Homo sapiens: one gene and its partners. The protein of the gene in region 5 interacts with the protein of the main gene of each other region in a pairwise test. Each region holds a gene or a part of one and is shown on either strand. Other genes may lie near its edges. The genes, in order: IQCF2, CAMKK1, ZNF497, TTC23, PRPS1, UBAC1 and KIAA0408.

Region 1 (3,571 bases), on a different chromosome or scaffold from region 5:
ATAAATACATACTTTAAAAAATAAAAGAACAAAAAAATGAAAAAAATAAATAGCCAGGCATGGTGGTGTGTGCCTGTAGTCCCAGCTACTCAGGAGGCTGAGGTGGGAGGATCACCTGAGTCCAGGAAGGTCAAGCCTGCAGTGAGCCAAAGTTGCACCACTGCACTCCAGCCTGGACAACAGAGTGACACCCTATCTCCAAAAAAGAAAAAGAGAGAAAGAAAATCATTTTCTCTTAGTGTTCAAATTTGTCACCATCAATATTTCCTTGTATTTATTTAAATTTCCCTGTGGCTATTTCACCTTTTTCATTCCACTTCATTCTCTTGATTACCCAGGTTGGTAAACTGTGTATCTTTAAAACTGGTCTTGTCAGAATACTGCCTTTTAAATTTATTTTCCACTACCCATCTTTGTTTTCTATGCATTAATTTAAGTTTTGATCTTTATTTGACTGCTTTCCAGATTCATCTGGTGTATCTTTTTCTAGTTTCCTAAGGCTTTGTGAGGCACCGAGTCAAGGGAAGAGAGGAAGTGCTAAATCTCACCAGACGCTAGAGAGTGATATGGGGATGCACCGTCATGGTCCTCCCTGCTTTGCCATGCTGATGATAATGAGAAGGGACTGTGGATGGACTTCACATGAGGAGAGCCCTGCTATGGAATGGCACTCAAGTGCTCTATTTTTCCACCCTCAGCTCTGACACATCTCTGACAGGAGGCAAGCAGACACATGGTACTGAGGAGAGAGGCCATTTCTCTTACTGTCTCCTGTCTCTGAAGAGAATGAGGAAGTAAAAGCTGAAGAACAACAGGAATGAAGTCAGTGGCAAGACCAACTGGTGCCACTGACCAGACCTGAGATTGAAAGATTAACCCTCCCCACCCCCAACTCTAACCACATGTGCTCTCAATCTATCACAACACTTTCACATGGACCCCTTAGAGTTGAAAGCCCTAAAAAGGGCCAGGTTTCACATGGACCCCTTAGAGTTGAAAGCCCTTTAAAGGGCCAGGAACTCTTTCTTTAGGGAGCTCGGTTCTTGAGATGCAAGTCGGCCAATGCTCCCGGGGGAATAAAGCCTCTTCCTTCTTTAACCCAGTGTCTGAGGGGTTTTGTCTGCAGCTCATCCTGCTACAGTACAAGTTCCCCTGGAGTTTGTTTCTGACAGAGACACATCTCTGTGGCAGATGTCCCAATCCCTATGTCATAATGCAATTGTGAATTCAGAGCTCTCTCCTCACTCACGTTACTCATGCCAGACCTTGGGAAGCAGAGAAATCAGGGCTAATGAACCATCTAAGGACAGGCCATGAGGGTTCGATTTTGTGTAAGAGACATGGCCAGATCTATTAGGTGGACCAGGAATGGGTGGGTATCTCCCTGGGCTTTACAGGACTTGAGAAAAGAGAGGATGTTAAAGTAGTAATTGTCTTTGTATAGAGCCATAGAGAGAAACAGTCTTAACTCATTTATGTACTTCCCATTTAATTCTGATGACAGACCAAAGGCAATTTAATTTTGGTTATAATTGAGGATGTTGAAGAAAGCATTGAATGGAAGACATTGCAGAAGAAGAAACAGCAGAAAATCAAGGTGAGAAGAATTCCATGTACTTAAGAGAAATCCAGAACATTTATAACTACATCATAAGGTGTAGGACTTTGCCTCTTATCAATCCAGGGTCTAATTAGGAGTCAACTCAATGTTGGCTCATTTTTCCTCCATTCTCTTCTCAGTCTGGGCTGTCTGGATCTGGGCCTGACTGAGATATTGAGAGTGATTGGAAAGAATGAAAGCCTTGGGAGGCCGAGACAGGCAGATCATGAGGTCAGGAGATTGAGACCATCCTGGCTAACACGGTGAAACCCCATCTCTACTAAAAATACAAAAAATTAGCCGGGTGTGGTGGTGAGTGCCTGTAGTCCCAGCTATGCTACTCAGGAGGCTGAGGCAGGAGAATGGGTGAACCCGAGAAGCGGAGCTTGCAGTGAGCCAAGATCACGCCACTGCACTCCAGCCTGGGCAACAGAGCGAGACTCCTTCTCAAAAAAAAAAAAAAAAAAAAGAATGAAAGCCATCAAGAAATGCATAAGGCTGAGAGGTGAGAATGTGAGAACTTGGAATTAGAGAGTAGACTGTTCAAAATATGGAAAGACTTGGAGTAGAATATGTGGTCAGGGTATTGAAAACCTACCATAGTATCAAAATATGGTCATAGCAGACAGAAATCAGCCAGTGGTGGTTTGGGGCTGGAATTAGCAGATAATTACCAGGCAGAAGGTTATGAGGCCTTTCCAAACCCAGTGAGCACCAAAGAGGTGAGTGTGACTAACAAGGTCCCACACATCCCTATTGCACCCTTCTAGTTACTAATGGTTTTTCCCTTGATCCATGCACTGCAGAAATAGTCTGCAGAAGAACTCTGTGACTCTAAGATTGAAGTGATGTGCCCACAGTGGCAGAGGAAGGTCACCACCAGGTCTGATGGCTCCTAGTCAGTGTCCTGCTAACTTCCCTGAATTCTGAGGAAGGGCTGTGTTTTGAGAGAGAAAATCCAGGCTCCTTCCAGGAAGATCCTAGAAGTTGGTGGCAGGAAGTTTTCTGACTGATCGCTCTTGTCTCTGCCTAGGAAAAACTTAGAATAAGAACAAAAGCAGCTGTAAAGATCCAGGCCTGGTGGCGGGGCACCCTGGTGCGCAGGACACTGCTGCATGCAGCCCTCAGGGCCTGGATAATTCAGTGCTGGTGGCGGATGACGCTGTCGAGGGTGCTGGAGAAGAAACGGCAGGCAGCTCTGATCGCCTACGCAACCAGAGAGAGGGCAGTGATCAAGCTCCAGTCTTTGGTCCGTATGTGGCGTGTCCGCTGGCGATACTGCCAGGTGCTCAATGCCATCTACATCATCCAGGGCCACTGGCAATGCCACAACTGCCAGACCTGCGCTCTCCTCCAGGGCCACTGTGTGGTCACAGCCACTCACCTGCAGTTCCACATTGAGATCATCAACTCCTAAGGGCTGGCAAGAAGGGCACTGTGTCTACTGTCCCTATTAAAGGTCTAACCTGGTCTGGTGTGTCTCATGGGCTCCCCCAGCTAATGGGATTCTTGAGACTTGGACCTTGCTGCCTCCTCTTCTCCCTGAGAAAGAATTTCAGTGAGGTTTGCCCCCTGTGTCCAAGGACCCTGTTTTGGACTGACAATGGCCATAGGAAGCCCCAGTCTGCTCTGATATATGACAGAGCCAGAAATCCCAGTTCCCATCCCCAGCCTTATTTTCTTCTCACCGGGGGATCTGGGAGGCAGTTGGGCTCCATCTTCCTGAAGATTCTGGGCACCTCTGCACATATGGATGGACTATTGGGCCCTGCTCTGTCAACCTAGAATCAAGGTCGGCTGGGGTTTGGGATGCCTCAGTTTCCTCTTTGGCAAGCACCTAGATGGAAAGGCAATATTTGGCTGATTCTCCTGGGAGCAATGTAGTGCAGCCCCAGGTGAAGGATAAGAGGCTGGCCTTACTGGTAGGTGGGGCTGGGGCTAGGCATGCTAATGATTAGGTGGTGACCCTAA
Region 2 (3,500 bases), on a different chromosome or scaffold from region 5:
GACCACATTCACGTGGTCCAGCTTCTTCAGGATGGCAATCTCCTGGTACACCCGCTCCAGGGGCAGCAGCTGCTTGGCTGGTCCTCCCTGGGCAGCCTGGGACCCTCTCGGGGGAGGGCGACCTGTGACCAGGAAGAGAACTCAAACACCTGTTCCAGGTGGCTGGGCCTCACCGTGGCCCCCAAACCAGTCTCAAGCAAGAGTCTTGCATGCCCGTGGTCTTGTCCCAACCCACAGGGCACATTCTGTCCCCAGGCCTCTGCTCACGCTGTCTCCCTCTCTACCCCATTCCTAGCCAAAACTAGCTCAGGATCGAGGTCTCCTCCTCTGCCTCCAGGCTAGGAGCTCCCAGGGACAGGATCAGAAGATACATACGTGGAAAGCCATACTGCTTCAGTAACTTCTTTTTGGAAAGGACTTTCATTGCCTAAGGAAGGAGGGACAGAAATGTCACTACTGTGCAGCCACCAGGGGCTAGAACAGGCTGGTACATGTGGACTGAGGTCCGGAGAGGCACACTGGACATCTGCTACTGGCCCTGAGGGTGTGGCCCAGGTAAGTGTTAAGCGGGGTTGGGGGTGGCCATATCTGAGCCTAGCCCTTCCCCTTATTCCCCCAGCAAGCCTTTCTGGAGCTTTCCCCTCAGAGGAATCCAGTCTCTGCTTGCATATCCCCAGGGTTAGGAAGCTCATTCCTTTGCATACCCCTAGGGACAGGGAGCTCACTCTCAGGCAGCCCTGTCCTCTATCTCCTAAGCACAACTCCTGCCCCACCCCTCAGGCTTCCAGGGCCTGGCTTGGGCAACACCTCCCTCGTATCCCCAGACTCACATAGTGTCTGTCTTCACTTTCGTTGTAGGCCAGCCTCACCACACCGTAGGCACCCTGCAGATAGGCATCAGTCAGCCCCACCTGGACAGGGCAACCCCTCCCAGGACCAGCTCAGGAGGTGGGGAGCCGAGCAGCTCTGGTCTCTCCTGCACCCCATCTGCACTACCCACCACCAGCTGGCTCACGGGCAAATATTGTAGCAGATGGGGAGGGGACTCCTGCGCCCTGGTAACTGCCCCTGCTTGGCTCCACATGGCTCCATGCCTCCCTCAGTCCCTCCTTGTCCACTGTCAAGAACTCAGAGAGTCGGGAATCAGGAGCCATCTTCCACCCTCCCCCTGGGTACCTGGGTACTTCCCACAGGGCACGAAACTGTCCTCACCTCCAGGCTAGGACTTGCCTGGCTCTGCCTCCCGTTCCCTCCCACACGAGAGAAGGAGCAGCGCCAAACAGAGAATCCCGAAGCCCCCACTGCTCTCGGCCTGCCCACTCCTACCTTGCCAATCTCACTCTGCAGCTTGTACTGGTTCAGCTGCACGCAGTCCTGTGGGGGAAGAGCGAGCACCAGGTGGAGCTGGGTCCGGAGGCAGCACTGCTCCTACCTCAGAGCCCGTTCAGGGTCCAATTCTGGCCATAAGCTCCTCATTCCCGGACCCCCAGGTCTCACCAAGCTTTTGAGTTTGGATGGGGAAGTTGGTGGTGCCATCGCCCCCGTATGTGACGAGAAGACGTGGCTCATGTTTGAAAACATGGATGGTGACGCCATGGCTGTGCCTTGTTCCCCAGAAGCAGTGGTGAAGGGAAAACGCTAATTCCTGTCTGGATTCTGGAGTCTGGAAGACCCTAATCCATGAGAAACCCATGAGCAACTATTTCCAGAAGCAGCTGAATGAGAAGGTCTAGACTCCAAGGACAAGATGAGGAGCCCTGGGCACAGAGGCTGAGAGCCTGGGTTCAGGCACAGAAAGCTCAGCCCCTGACATCTGTAGACTGCTTGGAACCTGAGTTCACTTTCAGACCTAAATGGCAAGAACTCCAGCAGAAGCCCAGAGGCTGGAGGCAGGCCGGCCGCTTCTGAGTCACAGCAGACTCTAAGAGGCAGAATTAGAGGCGAGGGGTGCAAGCTGGAGAAGAGTTAGGGGGGAAGGGGGACATAGCATCTATCTTCACATCTCTAAGAAGACTACATAGGGGACCAGGGAGAGACCTATTTCCTAGGCCTGGGCTGGGAGTGGGAATAGCAGGACTTAGGGAAGGCAGCCTTTGGCTCAGCTGGAGCTCCCCTGGTTGGGAAGAAGCTATATTGTTAGGTAGTGATCTCCCCAGCTCTGAGGGTATGCAAACCAAAGCTAGATAGCCGTGTGGCACAGACAGGGGCAGGAAAGAGTCTTCATTGCAGACTACTGAGGGGCTCATGAACAACCCCTCGTTCTGCCCCACCAACCTCTGCATCTGAGATGGCCACGTGGTGGGACTCGATGGTGGGCCTCCGCCAGGCCCGGGGGGAGATGTGGCTGGCAGGCCCCGTGGCATAAGGCCCAGCCTGCGCCTCCAGATAGCTTCCTGCTGGCCGCTCCTGTAGGGAAAGCTTCCTGGCTGAGAGGCTAGGCCGGGCTGGGAGCAGTCTTGAAGTACTGCCAGGGATCACAGAGGCAGCTCTGGCCCGTGGTGGGGGGTCCACACCGTTTCTAGTAGGCTCTGGGCCACCATCTGCCTCCTCCAAGTGAGTCACATCGATGGCTGCCACCCGTTCTACCAGCTCTGCCCGAGGATCCTGGCAGCAGACAGCTGGACCCCCCTCCATTGCTTCAGTCAAGGGGGTTCTTCTGCGTAGCCTTGTTGGGAACCTGAGAAAAGAAGGCAGAGAAGGCTTCACTCCTGGGTGTCAGGCTGGCTACCAGGTAAGGTAGCCACAGCGCTGTGGGTCCCACCTCCATGCCTTTGCCCTGGCTGTTCCCTCTACCGGGATTGCCAACACCCAAACTCAAGTCTGTCCCTATGACCTGAATGAATTCACATCGGTTCTGCCGCATGCCAGCCCTCTAGGCCTCAGTATCCCTGCCGGTAACAGAGGCAGTCACTTCTGCCTGCTGGCTTCACAGGGAAGCAGAGAGAATCTGATATTCTGGAATCAGGACAGACAGGGCAGAAGCCTGGAGGCCCAGCAGCACTGGAAGGGGCAGAGCCCAGGGTCAGCTCAGCCCCAGCACAGCATGCAGCCCTGTGAGTCATGAGTCCCAACCCTTGACAGCAGAGCACTCCGACACTGCCTCCTGGAAGCTGAGCTAGACACTAGTAACTCAGAAGCCTTGCTGATGCTTCAGACCCACCCGCCTCCTCCAGGGAGCCCTCCTTGATGTTTCAGCCTCCTACCCCCATCCCTCTCACTGCTTCCAGGAAGACTTCCCTGGGGCTCCCGACTCCAGCCAGCCCTGCCTCATTGACGTCTGTCAAAACAAGGGGATGGGCCCCACATGGTGGCTCACACTTGTAATCCCAGCACTTTGGGAGGCCGAGGCAGGTGGATCACCTGAGGTCAGAAGTTCGAGACTAGCCTGGCTAACATGGCAAAACTCTGTCTCTATTAAAAATACAAAAATTAGCCAGGCATGGTGGCGTGCACCTGAAATCCCATCTACTCGGGAGGCTGAGGCAGGAGAATCGTGTGAA
Region 3 (2,947 bases), on a different chromosome or scaffold from region 5:
GGGACAGGCGTGTGGCCGTGCGCCCGCGTGGATCTTCAGGTGCTCGGCCAGGTTGGAGCTCTGGCTGAAGGCCTTGCCACAGTCCCGGCAGGCGTGCGGCCGCGCGCCCGTGTGCACGCGCCGGTGCTCCAGGAAATTGGAGTTCCAGCTGAAGGCCTTGCCGCACTCCGGGCACTCGTAGGGCTTCTCGCCCGTGTGCGTGCGTCGGTGCTGCACCAGCGTGGTGCTTCGGCCGAAGGACTTGCCGCAGTCCGGGCAGCGGAAGGGCTTCAGGCCGCTGTGTGTCTCCTGGTGGTGGATGAGCTGCGAGTGCGCGCGGAAGGCCTTGCCGCACTCCCTGCAAGCGTAGGGCTTCTCGCCGCTGTGGATGCGCTGGTGCTGGCTGAGGTTGGAGCTCCAGGCGAAGGCCTTGCCGCACTCGGGGCACGTGTACGGCTTCTCGCCTGTGTGCACGCGCCGATGCTGCAGCAAGTAAGAGCCCTGGCTGAACGCCTTGCCGCACTCCCCGCACCGGCAGCCCGGCTCCTCTGGGAGAGGCGAAGGGCGCAACGCCCGGTCTGCAGGCTCGCTCCTGGGCCCAGCCCCGTCCCGCCCACCGTCTGCGGGGCCCAGCTCCCTGCCGGGGCCTCCCTGTTCGTCCGCCGCCCCCAGTGTGGCTTGCTGCCGCTGGCCGTCCCCTGCCTCCCTCGGAACCTCCGTGGAGTTTTCCCAGGCCCCCCAGCCTCCAGACACAGCCCCCTCAGAGAGGCCCCTCGTGGCAGTCTTCACATTGCAGAGGACCTGGCCTTCCTCTGGGGCCACCTGCAGGGTCCACCCTCTTGGGGACTCCATCTCGCGCCTGTGACCTAAAACAGGAGAGAAAAGGCAAGTACCTTAGAGAATACAAAGAACACCAGACAGAGGGCCTGAGGGGGACACGACGGTGGGTGGGCTGTCATCCCCCACTCTTCTCCTCCAGGTCCCTGGATGCCCAATGCCCTCTGGAGCCTGGAGCAGGAAGGCCAGCAGGCGGGCTAGACACTCGGGGGATGGGCCAGCACTCTGGGCCTGCCTGACAGGGCCACGTGCACATCCCCACACCCGGCCCGGCCCAGCAGGAGGGGAGGGGGCGCCAGCATCGCAGAAGGACTCAAAGTTGCCCACGCACCTGCACTGGCCCTACTGTGGCACCACTCTCCTCTCCTTGCTTCACAGGGTGGGGCCCCAAGTGTCAAGAAGGTGGAGACTCCAGTTTGTGAGGAACACGATGGACCCGTCTCCATTCCTGAAGGCTGGAGGACACCGCCTGACCCAAACACAGCTATGTCTGCCTCACCCACTCCACCCTGGCCGGATCCCTGGGTAGTCCCCTCCACACAGTATGGGCAGCATGTCCAGGCTGGAGGATCTCAGTGGCTGTTACCCAGGCAATGTCCACACCAGGCCTCTGTGCAGGTCAGACCAGGTGGTCCAAGGCATGGGGTGGCTGTGCAGCCCAGATCCCTGAGAGAGAGAGAGGCCAAGGGTGGGAGGGCCTCCTTGGTCCTAAGGCCATGCCTGCCTGTCCAGCCGATCCTTCCCACAGCGAAGTCTCTACAGCGAGCAAAACCCATCCTCATTTGCCCTGAGCACCTTATCATCCTTGTGTAGTCTCCAGCCCCGCTGCCAAGGCAGGGCAGGGACAAGTGTGTAGATGGTGCCATACCTGGAGGTGGGGCCTGGAAGGGGCCCAGGGGAGCCTCTTGCTCCTCTCCCTCCTCTGTCCTGGGGACCAGCTCCTCTTGGGGCCTGGGGGCTGGCACCTGGGGACAGGAAGGCAGCAGGGCAGGGTGAGGTGTTCAGCCTAGCAGATCTGAGAAAACAAGGGGCATGCGGTGGCATGACCCACCCTTCTCTGCACCTTCAGTTCTCAGGACACAATGCGGAGCACACAGGTGTGGACTGGAGATCTCTGACTCTGCCGTCCAAGCCAAGACCACCAAACTCCCACCTGTCACCATCACTTTCCCACAGCCCCCAGGCCCTCTCAGCCACCAACCCACGACTGGCCCCAGTGCTGGCTCAGCTGGGGTCGTGAGCAGGGGAAGCACACCCAGCCCCCAGACCAGCCCCCACTCATCTGGAGTCCTGGCCCAGCTGACTCCTGCTGTAGCCGCTCTGCCAGGGCAGTGGCCTCCTCAGGGCTGCCTAGCCACTGCTCCTGCGTGTAGGCCTGGATCTCTGGGAGCAGTGTGCCCAATAACTGCTCCAGCACCAAGAGCTCCAGCATCTGCTCCTTGGAGCAGGCCTCAGGCATCAGCCACTGGCAACACAGCTCACGCAGCTGAGCCAGGGCCCCTCGGGGCCCTGCTGCCTTCTCATAGCAGAACCCCCAGAAGCACTGGCCAGGGCTCTTGGAGCTGGGCTCACCCACCATCAGTTCCAGTGGACTCGGGAAGACCTGGGGGGCCAGGGCTGATGCCTCACTCATCTGGGCAGCCATCCTGCCCCTTTCCTGGGAGGGGAGTGCAGCTGCATGGCCCAGGGTACTTTCTCTGCAGCTGGAAACACAAAGGTGAGCCTGTGAGCACAGCAAGGCCACGAAGGTCCCCTCCTTGGGACCACCTGAGACTGAGTAAAAATGGAAGAATGGGGGTATCGGCGTTTCTGGCCCCCAGTGTCAGCATCTTTGCCCACCTGTGTGTCCAGGTGCCTGAGGGACACACTGAGGTGCCATGGCTGCTTGTACCATCCCTTCCCCCCGCCTCCCCGCTTTTCTTGAGGGTCCCTGCCCTGCCCTGTCTCCTTGGCACCCTTCATCCCACACACAGAACAACTAAGACAGAGACTGTGAACAGGACACCCAGAGTCAGACCAGCAGATGGGTCCTGTTTGTCCCCTCCAGGAAGTGTTTTAAAAATTTAAGTTAGGCCAAGTGCGGTGGCTGACGGCTGTAGTCCTAGCACTTTGGGAGGCCGAGGTGGGTGGA
Region 4 (3,500 bases), on a different chromosome or scaffold from region 5:
TTTGCTAAAATCTTCGAGGGCAGCTTAGGAGAGTGAGGTGCATCTTTTGATCAACACTGATCTGGGTGACTTGGGCAAGGGCAGTGAGGCATAGCATCAGTGACACTGAGCATTGGCTGACTCAGCAAGACACTATGGTGGGAAGCCAGGCAGTACAGGGGAACTGATGCATGGCCCACAGGAGTCAGAACAGTCAGCTGGCCTGTGGCCAAACATGCATCCACCTCTCTGCTCATCACTCCTCACCACAGGCAAGAGGGTCTCTGCTTTCACAGGTTCGGTCTAGTTGCAAGATAGATGTTAAATATCCACATGAATATATACTTACAAATATTTGATGACATCAAATGGATTCTCTAAGGAAGAATAATGGGGAGTATCTAATGAAGCCTGGGGAGAGGAATCAGAGAAGCTGGTAAGAAATGAAGAATGGGTTAGCATTGGCCTGGAGATGAATGAGGAAGGGCCTTCCAGGAGGAGGAAACAGAAGCTGGCACTGCCCGGAAGTGGGAATTAGAAAAGGCCAGTGTGGCAGGAACATGGATCAGGGAGAGGAGGCAAAAATGAGCCTGGAAATGTCAGTGGAGTCCAGGTCGTGGACGGTACTGTGGGCCATGTCAGGATTCTGGTTTATCCTGAGGGCATCGGGGAGCCAGTGGACTGGCTTTTACAAGTGAGTGTTCAGTGGTCAGATCTGCTTTTTGGAAACATCACCATGGCTTCCTTATTCTGAGTGGATTAGAAGAGGGCAAGCATGGAAAAAGCAGCTGAGAGATAGGAACTTGTTAGAGCGGTCCAGGCAAGAGATGATGAGTGGCAGGACTAAAGATGGAAAACAATGGATGCATTCAAGATCTATTTTGGAGGAAAAAATGGCTGAGGAACTAGATGGAGTGGGGCATGAGGGGGCAAACCTACCCCATTATTCTGACCTGAGCACTCCCCTTGTCTTCTAGAGATGTGAGGGGGGAATGGGGAGGGAGTCTGAGGCCCCTGGAAGGCCCCTCTCTCTCCCTGGGGTTGGGTGACTGAGAAACATCCTGAAACTCCAATTTGTCCTGGTGATTGTGGCCCTACTTTGGCCTGAGAAACATAGGTATATCGGCATAAAAGCCCGTGTTCCCTAGCTGACAGAAGGCGGGGGTGGAGGGGGGATTAAGGATGAGAAAAGAGCTGTGGGGGAGGAGGTCTACAGACGGTAAGGGAAATAAAGTTTTTCATTTCCAAGATTTGCCATGATAGGTTAGAGTTGAAAAAAATACATAGTCAGCCCTCCATATCCATAGATCAAAAATTATATGGGAAAAAACAATAAAAATAACAATACAACAATAAAAACAATACAAATAAAAAATACAGTGTAACAACTACTACCATAGCATTTACATTGTATTAGGTATTATAAGCAATCTAGAGATGATATAAAGTATTCAGGAGGCTTTGTCTAGGTTATATACAAATGTGACACCATTTTGTACAAGGGCTTGAGCATCCTTGGAGTTTGATATCCTTGGGGGCTCTGGAACCAATCCCCCACAGATACTGAGGAACAACTATATATATATGTGTGTGAGTGTGTATATATGTATGTATGTATGGTTTTCTAGGAAATTGAGATGGCGTTAACCTCTGATAAGAAAAGCTTAACAGAGGCCGGGCGCAGTGGCTCACGCCTGTAATCCCAGCACTTTGGGAGGCTGAGGCGGGCGGATCACGGGGTCAGGAGTTCAAGATCAGCCTAGCCAAATGGTGAAACCCCAACTCTACTAAAAATACAAAAAAATTAGCTGGGCATGGTGGCGGGGGCCTGTAATCCCAGCTACTCGGGGGGCTGAGGCAGAAAATTGCTTGAACCCAGGAGGCGGAGGTTGCAGTGAGCTGAGATTGCACCACTGCACTCCAGCTTGGGTGACAGAGCAAGACTCTGTCTCAAAAAAAAAAAAAAAAAAACTTAACGGAGAGGAGTGAAAAGTAAACAGGACTTAGGTGCGCTGAGAAGAGGGTGTGGGCATACATGCACACATACATATATACATATATATGCACACACATATATATAATTGTTCCTATCTGTGGGCGATTGTATATATATATATGTATTAATATGTACACACACACACATATATAAAAACATAAAGCAATGGTATGTTAGGCTTTGCAGGGAATGCATTCCCAAGGGTTTAATTCCCAATGAATATAAGGTCTGGGTCTTGCTCTATTTTCATAAGCCACGTAAATCACGCTTGTACGAATCAATACTAAACAACTGAGCTGTAACTTCTGCACCGTATAGTTTTCCTTAGACATGCAAACTCCATTCATTACCCAAACTGAGGAGAGAGGGATTAGACACACTAACTGCCACACTATTCCAGCCAGATCTGCAGGACTTCAATAAGCAGGGCCTGTCCACTATTTCTTTAGGATCTTTTGTAGGTGGGCATGACAATCTATATTCTCATAAAGTCTCCCAGCTTCTAAGAGCAAGTATCTCTGGAAGCTGCCCCAAAGGAGCCCTAGCCTTATTTATGTGTCCCTCTAGAGACTGGCACATGCTTTGCACACAGTAGATGCTTAATGGATGCTTGCAGAGTAAAGGAGTTGCCCTTTGGATATCAACTGTGAATAACTAGACAATTGTGATCCAAACTCACTTACCTCTTTTTGTCCAGTCATTTGTAGAAAATGGCAAAATTCATCTTGAATTGAAAGAAATTTGGTTCTTCCCATCCCTTCAGAATCCTTAAGATGAGCCATGCTCTCTTGAAAATACTGCTCAGCTACATCTGAAGAAAAGCATTTATCATAACTTTGAAAACTGCTCACAGATTTGAAATGGAAACAGAATAAATATACTGTTAGCAGTGTTGAGCTATTTGGAAAGAGGTATTGGGACAAGAAAAAACAGTTAAGACTGTCCTTTGCCCATTAATCTGCCTGTTTCATTAGAAAGGATTTAGGTCTTGAAGGATACCGTAATTTACTTTCTTTAATTTTCATACATCTAGCTTTCCCGGTGATACATAAAGAAAAGTTACTGCAAAAGAAGAAACTATGCCCCACATCTGAACACACTGGTAAGTTTTCAGGTTGATCAACCACTAATTCTTCCTATAACTTTAGTTATAGGGTAACTATGACTTTACTGAGGGTAGGACTCTGAAAGTTCACTTATTTTGATGGATTTGGAGTATAATCTTGGTACATATTTCTAAAACATGAAAAATCTGGAAAATATTGCTGACATGCCGCTGAGGGAAGAAATCATTCAAAACCCCAATCATTCCAAATACTTCAACATACTGGTTATAATATAACACAAATATTTTTAAATGCATGCCAATCTTGAATGCAAGAAAAAGAAAACCTCAGGTATGGAAAATGACGAGAGAACTAAAAGCCAGAGAAGTGAGCGGGAGCTGAGGTTGAATGGCCCGTAAGCATATTAGAAAAAAGGTCCATCTACTAGTACTGGGGTTTTCTAAGCCTGAGCAGGACTA
Region 5 (3,500 bases):
CACTTTGGGAGGCTGAGGTGGGCGGATCACCTGAGGTCAGGAGTTCAAGACCAGCCTAGTCAACATGGTGAAACCCGTTTCTACTAAAAATAAAAAAATTAGTCAGGGTGTGGTGGCTCACACCTGTAATCCCAGCACTTTAGGAGGCCAAGATGGGTGGATCACCTGAGGTCAGGAGTTTAAGACCAGCCTGGCCAACACAGTGAAAACCCATCTCTACTAAAGTATAAAAATCAGCCGTGCATGGTGGCACACGCCTGTAGTCCCAGCTACTCGGGAGGTTGAGGCAGGAGAATCACTTGAACCCGGGAGGCACAGGTTGCGGTGAGCCAAGATCACGCTACTGCGCTCCAGCCTGGGCAACAGAGTGAGACTCCGTCTCAAATAAAAATAAAAAAAAAAAATTAGCTGAGTGTGGTGGCAGGTACCTGTAGTCCCAGCTACTCAGGAGGCTGAGGCAGAAAAATTGCTTGAACCGGGAGGCAGAGATTACAGTGAGCAGAGATCGTGCCTCTGCACTCTAGCCTGGGTGACAGAGCAAGACTCCATATCAAAAAAATATATATATATATATATATATTTATATTACACTATTTCATATCTGCAGATTTGGTCTTGGGACCAATCCCCTGTGGATACTGAGGGATGACTTTACTATACTTCTATAGACAATAAGGTCTAAGAACAGCTTCCCTACTAGTATGCTGTGAATGGTTACAGCTACATGTGGATATTGATCACCTAGGCTTCAGGAGATCCTCTGAAGGAGCCTTATACCAGAAGCAGTTCACTGCCTCAGTTTACTCCAGTGCACTATACAAATATTACCATTTTCTATGGTAATATTTTCTAATATTACCATGTGACAGACACGAAAAAGATGCATGAAATGGTTGGCACATGTTAGTCTAAAGTACTTACAAATAACCGGACCATAATTTTAGCAGGTGGCCTGTATCTCATTTCATATAGGTACATGTGATGTACATAAAATTTGATGCATCACCTATTACTGTTACAGAGTCCATAAATAGCAAAAGAAGTAGAAATATCATAAGGAGTGAATCACTACTGTTCTATAATGACACTTTAACAAAAGACAGTACCACCTCTACCATACTGGCAATTTACCCAGTAAATATTAAATGTTCATATGCTCATCACTGTACTAGATGCTAGGGAAACAATGGTGAATAAAATGTGGTCCTTGCCCTCATTCTGTGTTAACTGTACTCTGGTCCAATTACTAAGTAACTCCATAGGAATTTACTCTAAGTATGAAGTAGGGCTATATTTTACCACGAAAGTTTCAGTGCCCATACTCGGGTCTCTACCAAGAAAAAAAAATCACCTCTCCTGTTCACCAGGTTTAAGAAAAAAAAAAGAAAATAATTTAAAAATTTTTAAAAATCACCTTAGTGATACCTCAAACAACATTATATTCCAACTAATCCTCTAGGTGAAGGAGAGGTGTATGTGTGTATATAGACAAGTAGATCAGAATGGCTGACAATACCTATTGAACAAGAGAAAACTTCAGTTCAAATCAAAAGGCAATAGAGTTATTAAATAAAAGATCCATACTTCTATCTCACTCTAAGCACTATCTTCTGTGTGGCTTCAGGAACTACCTACTGTCCTATTTCTGTCAAGATCACTTTTACCCACCCTTCTCTCCCCAAACAAAACTTCAAGGAGAACTCCAAAAGGGACTTATATGAAAACTGGCAGAGGCAATTCTATTGCCAGAAGAAGCTGACATAGGAGATAATTACTTATTTATTCCTTTCTAACCCAAGATGAAAGGGAGCTGGGAGTGGTGGCACACACCTGTAATCCCAGCTACTCAGGAGGCTGAAGCAGGAGGACTGCTTGAGCCCAGGAGTTCAAGTCTAGCCTGGACAACACAGGAAGACCCTCATCTCAAAAGCAAGAAAAGACAAATGGGGTTAGTTTATGTTGTAAAGCAAGAAAAATAAAAGCAAGTGAAAAAAAATCAAACTAGAAACCAATTAAAATCAAGGAAGCTGAGATTCCTGGCAGCCAGAACAAAAAAGAAAATGCACTAGTTTAGGATAAACCTTTTTTAAGACTGGACGCAGTGGCTCATGCCTGTAATCCCAGCACTTTGGGAGGCCAAGGCAGGCAGACTGCCTGAGCTCCCCATTTCAAGACCAACCTTGGCAACATGGCGAAACCCCGTCTCTACCAAAAAACACAAAAATTAGGCGTGGGGACATGCATCTGTAGTCCCAGCTACTCAGGGGGCTGAGGCAGGAGAATCGCTTGAACCTGGGAGGCGGAGGTTGCAGTATGGGGAGATGAAGCCGCTGCACTCCAGCCTGGGTGACAGAGCGGGACTCCGTCTCAAACCAAACAAAACAAAACAAACAGGCAGTGGTCATTTCAAGGGACTTTTGGGACGTTTTCAGTTTTTTTTTTTTTTTTTTTTTGAGACAGTCTCGCTCTGTCGCCAGGCTGGAGTGCAGTGGCACGATCTTGGCTCACTGCGACCTCCACCTCCCGGGTTCAAGTGATTCTCCTGCCTCAGCCTCCCGAGTAGCTGGAACTACAGCCGCACGCCACCACGCCCAGCTAATTTTTTGTATTTTTAGTAGAGATGGGGTTTCACCATGTTGGCCAGGATGGTCTCGATCTCTTGACCTCGTGATCTGCCCGCCTTGACCTCCCAAAGTGCTGGGATTACAGGTGTGAGCCACCATGTCTGGCCCAGATCTTTCTTTACTACTAGCTCTGCCCTTCGAGAGATTTCAAGCTAAAAGAGTCACTTTTAGGTTTTATGTTAAACAAGTCTGTGGTTGGGAGGCAGAGGCAGGAGGACCGCTTGAGCCCAAGAGTTTGAGACCAGCCTGGGTAACATAAAGAGACCTCCTCTCTACAAAACAATTTAAAAATTAGGCATGGTGGCAAGTGCCTGTGATTGCAGCTACTGGGGAGACTGAGGTGGGAGGATTGCTTCAGCCCAGGAGTTAGGAGCCATGATCATGCCACTGCACTCCAGCCTGGGTGACAGAGTGAGACACTGTCTCAAAAAAAAAAAAAATCAGAAAATTTTAATGCTGCTCACATTCATCCTCCATATATCAGCTCCTTGACCAAAATATGCATTTCCCTGGAGGAGAATGAAAGTCAGGCAGGCATATTGATTTCCAATCATGTATCAGAAGCCTATGGCTCTTGTTTCAGTCAAGAACACAGAGTATCATCTGTGCTCCAGACATTCACTTGCCAGAGTCAGGATGTTTGATTAAAAGTTGGAGAACAAATGAACAAATGTAGTTTGACAATTGATATCAGACAGTATAAGGGACAAGCTATTCTGCTATGTTTTTAAAACTTTATCATTATCGCTGGGCACGGTGGCTCACGCCTGTAATCCCAGCACTTTGGGAGGCCGAGGCGGGCGGATCACGAGGTCAGGTGATCGAGACCATCCTGGCTAACACGGTGAAACCCCGTCTCTACTAAAAAATACAAAA
Region 6 (2,452 bases), on a different chromosome or scaffold from region 5:
CCAGGCTGGAGTGCAGTGGAGTGATCATGGCTCACTGCAGCCTTGAACTCCCAGACTCAATGATCCTCCCACCTCAGTCCCCTGAGTAGCAGGGACTACAGGTACGTGTGCCACCACTCCTGGCTGATTTTGTTTTTTTGTTTGTTTGCTTTTTTAGTAGAGAGGAGGTCCTGCTATGTTACCCAGGCTGGTCTCGAACTCCTGAGCTCAAGTGATCCTCTTGCCTCAACCTCCCAAAGTGCTACAATTACAGGCATGAGCCACCATGCCCAACCTGAGGAAGGACTGTCTTCTGTATATCCTAACTTCTGTATGTCAGAAAATGCCACACAAAATTAGAGAGCAAAAACAGTTTACAACATTCAACAAAGGAAGATGTGCCTAATATCCAAGAAGCTATTAAGGAAGCTCTAGGATTAATATTGCAATTGAAAAACACATGTGCCAGGCACAATGGCTCTCGCCTACAATCCCAGCACTCTAGAAGGCAGAGGTGGGGGGAGCGCTTGAAGCCAGGAGTTCAAGACTAGCCTGAGCAAAAAAACGAGACCCCATCTCAACAACAACAAAAAAAATAGCTGGGCATGGTCGTGCATGCCTGTAGTCATAACTACCCATGAGGATGACTTGAGCCCAGGAGGTCAAGGCTGCAGTAAGCTGTGATTGTACCACTGCACTCCAGCCTGGGTGACAGATCAAGACCCTGTCTCCATAAAAAGAAGGAAAACAAATAGATGACACGCATAGACAGTATGTAAAAGAAGAAATGCAATGGCCAACAGAAAAGTATTCAACATTGCTAATAACCAAAAGGAATGCAAGTGGCCAGGCGCAGTAGCTCAAGCCTGTAATCCCAGCACTTTGGGAGGCCGAGACGGGCGGATCACGAGGTCAGGAGATCAAGACCATCCTGGCTAACACGGTGAAACCCTGTCTCTACTAAAAATACAAAAAATTAGCCGGGCACGGTGGCGGGCACCTGTAGTCCCAGCTACTCAGGAGGCTGAGGCAGGAGAATGGCGTGAACCCGGTAGGCGGAGCTTGCAGTGAGCTGAGATCGTGCCACTGCACTCCAGCCTGGGTGACAGAGCGAGATTCCATCTCAAAAAAAAAAAAAAAAAGAGGAATACAAGTTAAAACAATGAAGGTCTTGTCTATAATATGGAGGTGGGCAAGTGTGTGTGCTGGGGGCAGATCTTGCATGGACAGTGGCGCCATCACTGCACTCTAGCCTGGGTGACAGAGAAAGAGCCTATTTCTATTAGGAAAAAAAAAAGAAAAAGTTATTGGACAGACCCCAAGGCAGCACACACTAACATCCTAAGGTATACAAACAGCTGGAGAGCTAGGAGGAATATGCTTTCAGTGTGAAAGGAATCACTAAGAATAAAAATAAACTCACAAAAGACCATTCTCAAGTTTTAGAATTTGGGTACAAAGAAGATCCCTACCTCACACCACACACATACTTCTAGGTAGATTATGGACTTAAATTAAGAGAAACTTTTAACATTTTTGGAAAAAAAAATAAAAGGAAAACGTGTTTCTGACTTTCGGATAGGAGGGTTTTCCTTTTTCTTTTTTTTTTTTTTGAGGTGGAGTCTTGCTCTGACGCCCAGGCTAGAGTGCAGTGGCACGATCTCGGCTCACTGCAACCTCCGCCCCCCAGGTTTAAGCAATTCTCTGCCTCAGCTCCAGAGTAGCTGGGATTACAGGTGCATACCACCATGCCCAACTAATTTTTTGTATTTTTAGTAAAGACAGCGTTTCACCATCTTGGCCAGGCTGGTCTTGAACTCCTGACCTCGTGATCCACCTGCCTCAGCCTCCCAAAGTGCTGGGATTACAGGCGTGAGCCACCACGCCCAGCCATGGAGGGTTTTCTTTAAAGGTTCACATCTTAAAAAAAATACAGACACACTGAAGGACATCAAAACACGGGATTCTGCCCATCAGTGTGAGGAAATAAACCAGAAACTGAACAACGGCATCTGCAACACAAATAATGGGAAAAGGGTCAGCATCCAGGAGGTGAGGACCTTTCTGAATGAATAAGAAAACAATCCAAGAGAAAAGCAGGCCAAACGCTGAGCGGAAGGTCTCTCACAGCCAAGGTTCTACAGGCGGCCAATACGCTTCTGAAAGAAGGCCAGCCTTCAAGATCAGGGCACGGCCATCGCAGCTCCAGAGACACTTCCAGCCTGCTCGGGTGGCAAAGGCCCTCCCAACATCCAGGAACTCAGCTCCTGGGGACCAACAGGTCTGTAATCCCAGCACTTAGGGAGGCTGAGGCAGGTGGATCACGAGGTCAGGAGTTCGAGACCAGCCTGGCAAACATGGTGAAAGCCGTCTCTACTAAAATACGAAAAATTAGCCAGGCGTGGTAGTGCACGCCTGTAATCCCAGGTACTCAGGAGGCTGAGGCAGGAGAATTGCTTGAACCTGGGAGGCG
Region 7 (2,242 bases), on a different chromosome or scaffold from region 5:
TTGGGAATAAAATCATGATACTTAAAATCTGATACACATTTCAATGATAGTATTAATCCAATAGGTTAAATTAACAAATTCTTAGGAAAAAAATCTGTTTATATGAAGCTATGGAGAAATCTAGAAAGTAGGTAACGGTTTAGATTTTGAGGGACCTATGAACTCAGAACAAGTTCATTTAGAGGTGGGAAACCTGAGATTCAAAGAGGTCTGCATGGCTGCCAAGATTGCAGGGACAGAATCCAAGCCTGGGCTCACTCATGATCTGCTCTCCTGTATAAATGTCCCATGTGCATCTATGACCTTATTGTTTGCAAAGCAAATTCATATTCCACGACTTGTCTGCTTCTTACAACAAACTACAAGGCAGGCATTGTGATTTCTAAGTAAGAAGGAAAAATTAAGTAGTCAAGATAATATTTAGAATAAATATTTTTGAAGATGATAGTTAAATAGATGGCTCTTCAGACTCCTAGCTCAGGCTATTTTTCCAGCCTTCTTTTCCCAAGGAAGAGAAGACAAAAAAAAAAAAAGATTGAACAGCTCTTTTTCATTTTTGTTTTGTTCATTTTATACATGACACAAATTGTTTATCTTGCTCTCATTGGGAGTTTCTGTTGATTCCCTCTTTCAATGATCATCAAAAGTCATCACCCCTGACTTAAATGGTTTTATGAAATTCAAGAAGTTGTGAACAAGGCTTTAACAAAATATTTCCACTTTTAATGCCTATGCTCTGATTTTATATAAATTTTGTATGTAGGACATGATGTTGAAGTAAAACCAATAAATAGCCAATCAGTATTCATCTCTAGCGTCAACTGAATCCTGACCTCAATCTTCAAAAGAATCAGAATAGTTTCACACTTCATAAGTTACATATACTCCAGAATAAATAAAAGCAGTTTGCTTGAAGTATTATCTTGGCTCATTTGTGCTGCTATAACAAAACACACTTGAGACTGGGTTATTTATAAAGAACAGAAATTTATTTCTCTACAGTTCTGGAGGCTGGGAAGTCCAAGATCAAGCTGCAAGCAGATTCGGTGTCTGGTGAGGGCTGCTGTGTGCTTTCAAGGTGGTGCCTTATTGCTGTGTCTTTATATGGCAGAAGGGGCCAACAATGGAGAAACAGCAGAATAGCAAGAAGCAGCTGAATGCTATGTGATGCTTCTTTTATAAGGGCCTTAAATCCCATTCATGAAAGAGAAGCCTTCATAATCCAATCACCTCCTAAAGGCCCTACCTCTTAATATTGAAGATTAAGTTTCAACATGAATTTTGGAGGTACGTATTCAAACCATAGCAAGCATACAGTAATTTCCAATATAAACCTCACTCAAAATTACAGTCACATGCTGCACAAACCAGTTCAATGCACATATATGATGATAAGATTATAATACAATATTTTTGCTATACTTTTTCTATGTTTACATATACAGATATCATTGTGTTACAATTGCCTTTAGTATTCAGTACAGTAACATGCTGTACAGGTTTGTAGCCTAGGAGCAATAGATCATACTTTCAAGCCTACCATCTAGATTTATATAATTACACTCTGTGATGTTCGCTCAGTGATGAAATCACCTGAGAACACGTTTCTCAGATCATATCCCTGTTGTTAAGCAATGTGACTGCAATTGTGCTCTGCTGCCAGTTTATTTTTGAAGCTTTATTTTTCAATTACTTACTCATGGCAATTTTATAAGAATCATTAAACAAATTTAATCCAGCTATTTGGGATCTGCAGATTTTTTCTTACATAATGCTGACCAGTCTCAACACCAAATTGTCTAACCTGAATTATATATTTGTTTATTTGAATATTTTCTTAAAATTTTCTGTTTAAAATTAACCCAGTAAAGGGTTTTTTGAGTTAATGATATCTGTAGTAAAATAGTTCATTTGCAATGAAAGCCAGAGAAGCACCCACAATATTCTTTAGAGGAAGCTACATGTAGGAGTAATAGGGGGCAAAAGTCTCCATCTGTGAAAACTCAGGAGGTAAATGATTGGGAATAAAGATTCTTCCTAGAAAAGCAGAGGTAAGGAGAGAGATACTGAGACCTGGCATGCCACCTAGTTAAAGATGGTGGCCATGTAGCCCACAGAGCCAGAGCTAAGTGAATTTATGAGGTATTCTACTTAGCAAAAGCAAGCATCTAGGCTTTCCAGACAGATCCAGGGGCTGGGAAAAGCACTACATCGAGGACTCCAGGGTGGACAGTGCTCACAG

What was found.
Region 1: the proteins of PRPS1 (region 5) and IQCF2 interact in binary tests that used the Homo sapiens proteins (3 or more experiments, as listed by UniProt).
Region 2: the proteins of PRPS1 (region 5) and CAMKK1 interact in binary tests that used the Homo sapiens proteins (3 or more experiments, as listed by UniProt).
Region 3: the proteins of PRPS1 (region 5) and ZNF497 interact in binary tests that used the Homo sapiens proteins (3 or more experiments, as listed by UniProt).
Region 4: the proteins of PRPS1 (region 5) and TTC23 interact in binary tests that used the Homo sapiens proteins (3 or more experiments, as listed by UniProt).
Region 6: the proteins of PRPS1 (region 5) and UBAC1 interact in binary tests that used the Homo sapiens proteins (3 or more experiments, as listed by UniProt).
Region 7: the proteins of PRPS1 (region 5) and KIAA0408 interact in binary tests that used the Homo sapiens proteins (3 or more experiments, as listed by UniProt).

Annotation. Positions count from the first base shown.
Region 1 is NC_000003.12:51,860,354-51,863,924, forward strand, and holds IQCF2 (IQ domain-containing protein F2), read left to right. Parts: upstream 1-1,261; 5' UTR 1,262-1,313; coding exon 1,314-1,331; intron 1,332-1,504; coding exon 1,505-1,597; intron 1,598-2,633; coding exon 2,634-3,017; 3' UTR 3,018-3,071; downstream 3,072-3,571.
Region 2 is NC_000017.11:3,883,054-3,886,553, forward strand, and holds part of CAMKK1 (calcium/calmodulin-dependent protein kinase kinase 1), read right to left. Parts: intron 2,678-3,500; coding exon of another isoform or gene 2,635-2,677; coding exon 2,275-2,634; intron 1,375-2,274; coding exon 1,327-1,374; intron 885-1,326; coding exon 831-884; intron 428-830; coding exon 376-427; intron 123-375; coding exon 1-122. UniProt on the Homo sapiens protein: Calcium/calmodulin-dependent protein kinase that belongs to a proposed calcium-triggered signaling cascade involved in a number of cellular processes. Phosphorylates CAMK1, CAMK1D, CAMK1G and CAMK4. Involved in regulating cell apoptosis.
Region 3 is NC_000019.10:58,356,805-58,359,751, forward strand, and holds part of ZNF497 (zinc finger protein 497), read right to left. Parts: intron 1,782-2,947; 5' UTR 1,685-1,781; intron 846-1,684; 5' UTR 832-845; coding exon 1-831. UniProt on the Homo sapiens protein: May be involved in transcriptional regulation.
Region 4 is NC_000015.10:99,159,082-99,162,581, forward strand, and holds part of TTC23 (tetratricopeptide repeat protein 23), read right to left. Parts: intron 2,787-3,500; coding exon 2,659-2,786; intron 1-2,658. UniProt on the Homo sapiens protein: Participates positively in the ciliary Hedgehog (Hh) signaling.
Region 5 is NC_000023.11:107,635,010-107,638,509, reverse strand, and holds part of PRPS1 (ribose-phosphate pyrophosphokinase 1), read right to left. Parts: intron 1-3,500. UniProt on the Homo sapiens protein: Catalyzes the synthesis of phosphoribosylpyrophosphate (PRPP) that is essential for nucleotide synthesis.
Region 6 is NC_000009.12:135,934,922-135,937,373, forward strand, and holds part of UBAC1 (ubiquitin-associated domain-containing protein 1), read right to left. Parts: intron 1-2,452.
Region 7 is NC_000006.12:127,437,906-127,440,147, reverse strand, and holds the end of KIAA0408 (uncharacterized protein KIAA0408), read left to right. Parts: 3' UTR 1-1,742; downstream 1,743-2,242.